2 linked regions of the Homo sapiens genome follow. The protein of the gene in region 1 purifies or fractionates together with the protein of each later gene. This does not show direct contact. Each region holds a gene or a part of one and is shown in the gene's direction. Other genes may lie near its edges.

Region 1 (3,500 bases):
AGGTAATACTTTGTAATTCTTTCTAAACAAACTCCAGGCCCCTGTTACTGTTTAGGCTCTCTAGAGAATAACACTGATAAATAACTTTAGCAACATTCAAATAAATCTGTTGCACTTCAAATTAATTGCAAGAAAGTATGAAAATCTAGGGTTGCTGTTCTTCTTTGGTGCCATTGTTTACATTTTGCTATATTACCTAAAAGATGTTTTTTTGTTTTTTTGTTTGAGGCAGCGTCTCACTGTGTCACCCAGACTGGAGTGCAGTGGCACAATCTCTGCTCACTGCAACCTCCACTTCCCGGGTTCAAGCAATTCTCCTGCCTCAGCTTCCCAAGTAGCTGGGATTACAGGTGCCTGCCACAAGGCCTAGCTAATTTTTGTATTTTTAGTAGTGACAGGGTTTTGCCACATTGTCCAGGGTGGTCTCAAACTCCTGACGTCAAGTGATCCACCTTCCTCGTCTTCCCAAAGTGCTGGGATTACAGGCATGAGCTACCATGCCCGGCCCCTGAAAGATGTCTTTAACACCTACTTTGAGTTATAAAAATGCTTGGTGCTGGCCAGGCAAGGCGGCTTATGCCTGTAATCCCAACATTTTGGGAGACTGGGGCTGGAGAATCACTTGAGCTCAGGAGTTCAAGACCAGCCTGGACAACATAGTGAGGTCTTGTCTCTAATAAAAATCAAAGAAATAAAAAAAAAATCACATGGTGACACACACCTGTAGACCCAGCTACTTGGGAGGCGGAGGCAAAATGATCGCTTGAGCCCAGGAGGTCGAGGCTGCAGTGAGCCATGATTGTACCACTACACTCCAGCCTGGGTGACAAAGGGAGACTCTGCCTCAAAAAAAAAAAAAAAAAAAAAAAAAAAGCTTGATCCCAAATCAGTAAAAGAATTATTTCTTTATGTATGTTCTTAAAAACAAATTTTTGCTCACTTTGTGTCCGTGAGACTAGGTGATTCAGCCAACTATTTTTAAAACGGCAGTTTTCTAATAATCTTTTTTTTCTTACAGTCTTGTGCTGCCTCCAACCCAGTCCTCTTCAGATTCCTCACCCCCGGAGGTGTCTGGCCCTTCCTCATCCCAAATGAGCATGAAAACTCGCCGACTCAGCTCTGCCTCAACAGGAAAGCCCCCACTCTCTGTGGAGGATGATTTTGAGAAACTAATATGGGAGATTTCAGGAGGCAAATTGGAAGCTGAGATTGACCTGGATCCTGGGAAAGATGAAGATGACCTTCTGCTTGAGCTATCAGAAATGATTGATAGCTGAAGGTGGTAGTGAGGACACTTTAAAAAAAAAATCGCCAAAAAACTGGACTTAGTTTCATCTATTGTAACATTTACCTGAGATGATCATTTCTTTAGTCTAGAATTTGCCCCAAATCAGAAGTATACCTCTGAATTATCTGTATGTGTCCTGGATTCCTTGGGGTCAGATTTTTAAAGTTACTTTATAACCATTTTGTCCATTTGATGCCATTGTTTATCATCTTTTGAGAAAAAAGTTCTGTCATACCCTTCTCTCCACAAAAAAGAGACTGAGAGGGAGATCAAGTGAAAGGGTGCAAGCGAACTTAGTGACTCCTTGAGGTGTTTGTCAGTTTTGGCTTTTTTCTTCTTTGTTGTATTCTTTATGTATTGTCTTGATGTACTTAATATTACCTGAGTTTGAAATGGATGAAGACAGCTGCTACCATTAAGGACCAAATTTTATGCTACCACTAAACAAAAATACCCACTCAGTCTGTGTTAAATTGTATGTCTTTTTAAAGGTATTTAAAGATTCAACTAAGCTTTAAAGAGGGCTGAGCAGCTCAGGAAGCCTGTAATGTGGGCATAACTCTTTGGACCTGATCTTGATGCTTCTGCTGCTCTGTTAGCCTCTGAAGAGCAATATCTAATTTATTATTACTGTAATTTTTTAAAAGGCTTTAAAGTGCCTCAGGGGTCCCCTGAAACTAATTTTCTATTTCTGGGATTCCCTGGATTCATTATATGAGATGGTGACATGATTAGAGGAATTCTTTTTTAGTATGAAAATTGTCCTTTTTCTTCTTCAGTACTTGCCTCCTTGCTGGCATTGAATTAACACAGGGACAAAATTTGGTTAATTTTTTATTTCTAACTCTCCCAACAAACCCCTGTTGCCCAGTATTTGTTTGGTGGCCTTTAACCACCTGAGGGAAAAAATGAGCTTATTCAAGCTGCCAATATTTATCTATGGGCTGTAGCAGTACACTGAATTGTACTGTGCCAGGGATATTGAGATGCTCTGGGGGTGTATTGTATACCTGCCAGTTTTCTTCATTTCTGAATTGAGTTTTCTTTTCTTGATGTTGGTTTCCTTCATATCACCTCAAGGTTTAGATTTGTGAAGGAATAAGCATGATGGAAATAATAGTCTTGAAAGGAGATATGTTGTATATAATCAGGAGGAAGAGGAAGGAAGGACTTACCCATTTTGATATTTTGCTGTAGGTGGCCAGTTTTGTTTCTCATAGGGAAATCTGACCCACCTGTCATGTTGGCTCCTAAGGAACTGCTGTTGTAAGCGGCTCATCAAGAGTTGAACTTCACGTAGCCTTGTTGGGAATATGGAAAAGGAAGAAAGCCACAGGACTGCCCATTCAGTCTTGGGAAGATTGGGATGATTCTGCACAAGCAAAAATGACTGAAGTTTATGTATAGACACACCTCTACCAATCCATCTTCAGCTGACTGAATGTTGTATGATAGCCCTTCTCCAAAGCAGAGGTAGAATGTTCAGGTTTCACCATGGATTTTCTACTTATTTCGTTTTTGGAATCAGCTTACAGATTCCAGGTCCCTTTTGTATATATTCTTTATTCTTTTGCTTTTTTAAAAAATAATTTTGTTTCATATTTAAAGCACTTGTATTAGTCAATGTTTCGTGTTCCGCATTATTTGAACCATTTGCCCTTACAGAAAGAGAAATACTTGTTTGTGTTTTAAATAAAACTGATGTAGGAAAGTCTTGATGTTGTGAGCTAAGTAATCTTACATCATCATATCAGCCTGGGATCCATCTTGACAAGAGACCCCAGACAGAATGCTATTGGCCTTTCGTGTAAGTGCCCGAATTTCAGTTATTATTTGGCTTAGAAACCTTTCATCTGGATATATTGCCAAATTTACAAGTGTGCTCAATTTTAGCTGCATATGCTTTAGGTAAGAATTTATATTATTATAATGTGAGGATTTTTTTTCTGACACGGATACTTACTCCTTAGTGTTGTAACTCAAGCAATGCCATTAAGTTTTTAAAAGGAGGGAGGGTTTAAAAGTGATCTTAGGGAGTCTCTCTGGGCCTACTCTGGCTCAAGAGGCTGATAAAAAATAAATAAATGAATAAACTTGATCTTTAGAGTCAACGATTTAGAATTTTCAAGCATGAAGGTGCAGCAGATAAGAAATTTAATTTATAGAAGTCCAGGTTTCTTAATATGTGTGCCAATTTTTAAAATTGTAGGAA
Region 2 (4,140 bases), on another chromosome or scaffold:
GGAACGAATGTTAAGCAATAAAAAAGGAATGAACTACTGATACATGCAACAACATGAATCCATCTCAAAATCATTTCGTTGAGTGAAAGAAGGCATGCACTGTATTATTTCATTTATATAAAATTCCATGAAAAGCAAACTATAGTGACAGAAAGCAGATCAGTGGTTGCCTGAAAAGTGGGTGGGAACAGTGAAAGGCACAGATAGCAAAAGTTCACGAGGAAACTTTTAGAGGCTTTGATATGCTCATTATGATTTTGGCAATAGTTTCACAAATGTATGTTCATGTCAAAACGCATCAAATTTTACAACCTAAATATGTGTGGGTTATTGTATGTGAATTATTTTTATTATTATTTTATTTTTATTTTTTGAGGCTAGTCTCGCTCTGTCACCAAGCTGGAGTGCAATGGCGCAATCTCGGCTCACTGCAACCTCCGCCTCCCAGCTTCAAGTGATTATTCTCCTGAATCCGAGTAGCTGGAACTACAGGCGCGCGCCACCACGCCCGGCTAAATTTTGTTTTTTAGTAGAGATGGGTTTTCACCATGTTAGCCAGGCTGGTCTCAAACTCCTGACCTCAGGCAATCGGCCAGCTTCAGCCTCCCAAAACGCTGGGATTACAGGCGTGACTACCGCGCCTGGCTGGGTTATTGTATGTCAATTTTTACCTCCATAAAACTGTTAAGGCCTGTAATCCCTGCACTTTGGGACCCTGAGGCAGGCGGATTACCTAAAGTTGGTGAGTTCGAGACCAGCCTGACCAATACGGAGAAACCCTGTGTCTACTAAAAATACAAAAATTAGCTGTGCATGGTGGCGCATGCCTGTAATCCCAACAACACGGGAGGCTGAGGCAGGAGAATCGCTTGAACCCGGGAGGCAGAGGTTGCTGTGAGCCGAGATTGCACCATTGCATTGCAGCCTGGGCAACAAGAGCGAAACTCCGTCTCAAAAAAAACAAAACTAAACTAAAACACTGTTAAGGGCAGTTAAAACCCAGCCCATATTCCCAGGCTGTTTTTTTTGTTTTGTTTTGTTTTTTCTTTAGGGTTGAAAAAAAACTAAATCCCCATTCACCGCACACGGCACTCTTCACTAACCACGAGAAACCCCACCCAACACCATCCACCGGGTCCCTCCCTTGCCCTCCTAATCCCGCCAGCGAGGTGTCTTCTCTCTGCCGCCCGCTAGAGGGCGTGTACAGAGGAGGTCAAAGCTCTTGGCTCGCTAGCTCAGCCCCAACGCCTGCATGAACTTCCGGCTACACGCCATTCCGCTTCCCGAGGAACGCTTGGGCTGTTGTACGGGTTCCCTACGGGACTCTGAAGGCTGAGGATATCCGGCCCGGAGCGTTTGTGCGGCGCGGAGTTAAGCGCCCCGGCAGTAACTTAAGGGAAGTGGACCAGGGTTGCCGCTGCCCAGAGCGGTCCTTTAGTTTCCACTGGAGTGGAGGGAAGAGTGCTGCCATGGCAGCCCCTGCGCAGCCCAAGAAGATCGTGGCCCCTACGGTGTCCCAAATCAATGCGGAGTTCGTGACCCAGGTGAGCTCGGGCGAGTCTGGTGTGTGTGAGTGGGTATGGACGTCGTGGCCCCGAGGCCTGGTGGTGGGGTTTTTTTTCAGGATTTAGGAGTCCGGAGGAGGCATTCGTTTGTTAATTGATTCACACACGTCTTTTTACTGAGTATCAGCTCCGTGCCGGCCACTATGCTAGGTGCTGGGCATACCGTGGTGAAAGAAGCTGCCCTGCCCTGGGGAGTTCATGGCCCAAGGAAGACAGACGCATGAAAATAAAACTACTGTATGAGTTTTGCTGTGTTGGAGTTTGTCTCAGGAGCAATGGATTCAGAGAGGAGGGAACACCCCAGTCTATCTGAGACTGGCAAGTAGGCTTCGCAGCAGAGTGATGCTGGACTGCCTCTTCAAGTAGGAGTAGGCTTTTTCCTGGTCCTTAGAGTGTCCTGAGTTTTTGAGCAGCGATGAGAAACTGACAAGACACCTCCAAATAGACCTATCTAAAAACAGAGTAATTCTGTAGTTTGAGAGCGTTCATTTAGAATCTGTTTACTATCTTGCATTGTGAGCCACAGTTGGCTTTGGATAGGGAACCACAGTCCTGTGGTTGTCAGCATCATTCCTCATTCTTATTATTTATTTGTGAATTGCATAAGAGTGTAAGTAGTTCAATGTAGAAGTTATCATGCCCACCTGCTTCTTTATTCTTTATTCCTTGTCTCAACAGATTTGCCAGGGCAGAAGCCTAGGGAGTGATTTTGAATCCTCCCTTTCCCTTAGTCCCTACATTTCTACATTCTAAATATCTTTTGAATCTATCTGGTGTTCTACATCTCTGTCACCCTAAGCTTGGTTGCCATTGTTTTCTGCCTGGACCAAGGTATCGTAATCTGTTATATTGTCCTTCCTCTTGCTCTGCTCTAGCCCATTCTTCATGTTGCTTTCCGAGTGATTTCATACAAGTGCAAATCTCATCATATCACTTGCCTTCTTAAAATTTCTGCCTTCCGGCCGGGCGCAGGGGCTCACGCCTGTAATCCCAGCACTTTGGGAGGCCGAGGCGGGCGGATCACGAGGTCAGGAGATCGAGACCATCCTGGCTAACACGGTGAAACCCCGTCTCTACTAAAAATAAAAAGAAAAAAAATTAGCCGGGCATGGTGGCAGGTGCCTTTGGTCCCAGCTACTCGGGAGGCTGAGGCAGGAGAATGGCGTGAACCCGGGAGGCGGAGCTTGCAGTGAGCCGAGATCGCGCCACTGCACTCCAGCCTGGGCAACAGTGCGAGACTCCGTCTCAAAAAAAAAAAAAAATCTCTTCCTTCCTTTCCTTCCTTTTCTTCTTTCAAGATAGGGTCTCACTATGTTGGCTGGGCTCCAGTGAGCCTTCCACCTCAGCCTCCCTTGTAGCTAGGACTACAGGGACTACACTAAGGCTGGCTGTCCTTAAAATCTTCAGCCGGGCGCGATGGCTCATGCCTGTAATCCCAGCACTTTGGGAGGCCGTGGCAGGTCGATCACCTGAGGTCGGGAGTTCGAGACCAGCCTGACCAACATGGAGAAACCCTGTCTCTACTAAAAATACAAAAGTAGGCAGGCTTGGTGGTGCATGCCTGTAATCCCAGCTACTCGGGAGGCTGAGGCAGGAGAATTGCTTGAACCCGGGAGGCGGAGGTTGCAATGAGCCAAGATCGCACCATTGCACTCCAGCCTGGGCAACAAGAGCAAAACTCCGTCTAAAAACGAAGCAAAAAAAAAGAAATCTTTAAAGAATTCTAATTACCCTTAGGTTAACGGCTGAAATCCTTCATAGTGTTGTGTGATTTGACCTGTGCTTATATCTTCAGTTTCCTCTTTTTCCTCTTCCTTTCTAACTCTGTGCCTTAGCTGTACAGAACTTCGTTTATTTGAATGTGCCATGCTATCTTTCATCTCCTGGCTTTTCAACATTGTTCCTCTGCTAGGAATCCTCATTTTTTTTCTCCCCACCTTCCTTTATTCATTCTCAGCCTTCTACACTACTTTAGAGAGGCTTTTCCTGACAACTTAAACGAGATTAGAGGTCTCTTTCCCCATATACCTGCATTTTTGCAGTAGAAGTCATTTATTAGTTTACTTCTGTCATGGAACTCACATTTTAGAGGGAAGAACCAGACAGATGAACGGTATAGTTTCATACACTGATAAATGCTATGAGGAAAATGAAACAGGGCTGTGACAGACTGGTTTGAGGTGTATGAAAGACAGTCAGGAAAGTTCTCTCCGAGGTGACATTTGAGCTAACACCTGAATGCAAAGAAGGAGCCAGTTTTGAGAAGAGCAAGGAAATAGCAAGTACACACACCTTAAGGTGTGAATGTAAAGAAGGCCAGGGTGGGCCGGGTGCGGTGGCTTGTGGCTCGCAGTGGGATTACACCTGTAATCCCAGCACTTTGGGAGGCTGAGGTGGACGGATCACCTGAGGTCGGGAGTTCGAGACCAGCCTGGCCAATATGGAGAAACCCTGTCTCTACTAAAAATACAAAATTAGCCGGACGTGGTGGTGCATGCCTGTAATCCCAGCTACTCAGGAGGCTGAGGCAGGAGAATCACTTGAACCCAGGAGGCAGAGGTTGCAGTGAGCTGAG

What was found. The genes of interacting proteins can lie anywhere in the genome.
Region 2: the proteins of ZC3H11A (region 1) and AQR purify together in Homo sapiens (affinity purification with mass spectrometry; one large-scale study listed by BioGRID and IntAct). This does not show direct contact.

Annotation. Positions count from the first base shown.
Region 1 is NC_000001.11:203,851,123-203,854,622, forward strand, and holds the end of ZC3H11A (zinc finger CCCH domain-containing protein 11A), read left to right. Parts: coding exon 1-2; intron 3-1,018; coding exon 1,019-1,277; 3' UTR 1,278-3,002; downstream 3,003-3,500. UniProt on the Homo sapiens protein: Through its association with TREX complex components, may participate in the export and post-transcriptional coordination of selected mRNA transcripts, including those required to maintain the metabolic processes in embryonic cells.
Region 2 is NC_000015.10:34,966,943-34,971,082, reverse strand, and holds the start of AQR (RNA helicase aquarius), read left to right. Parts: upstream 1-1,340; 5' UTR 1,341-1,469; coding exon 1,470-1,544; intron 1,545-4,140.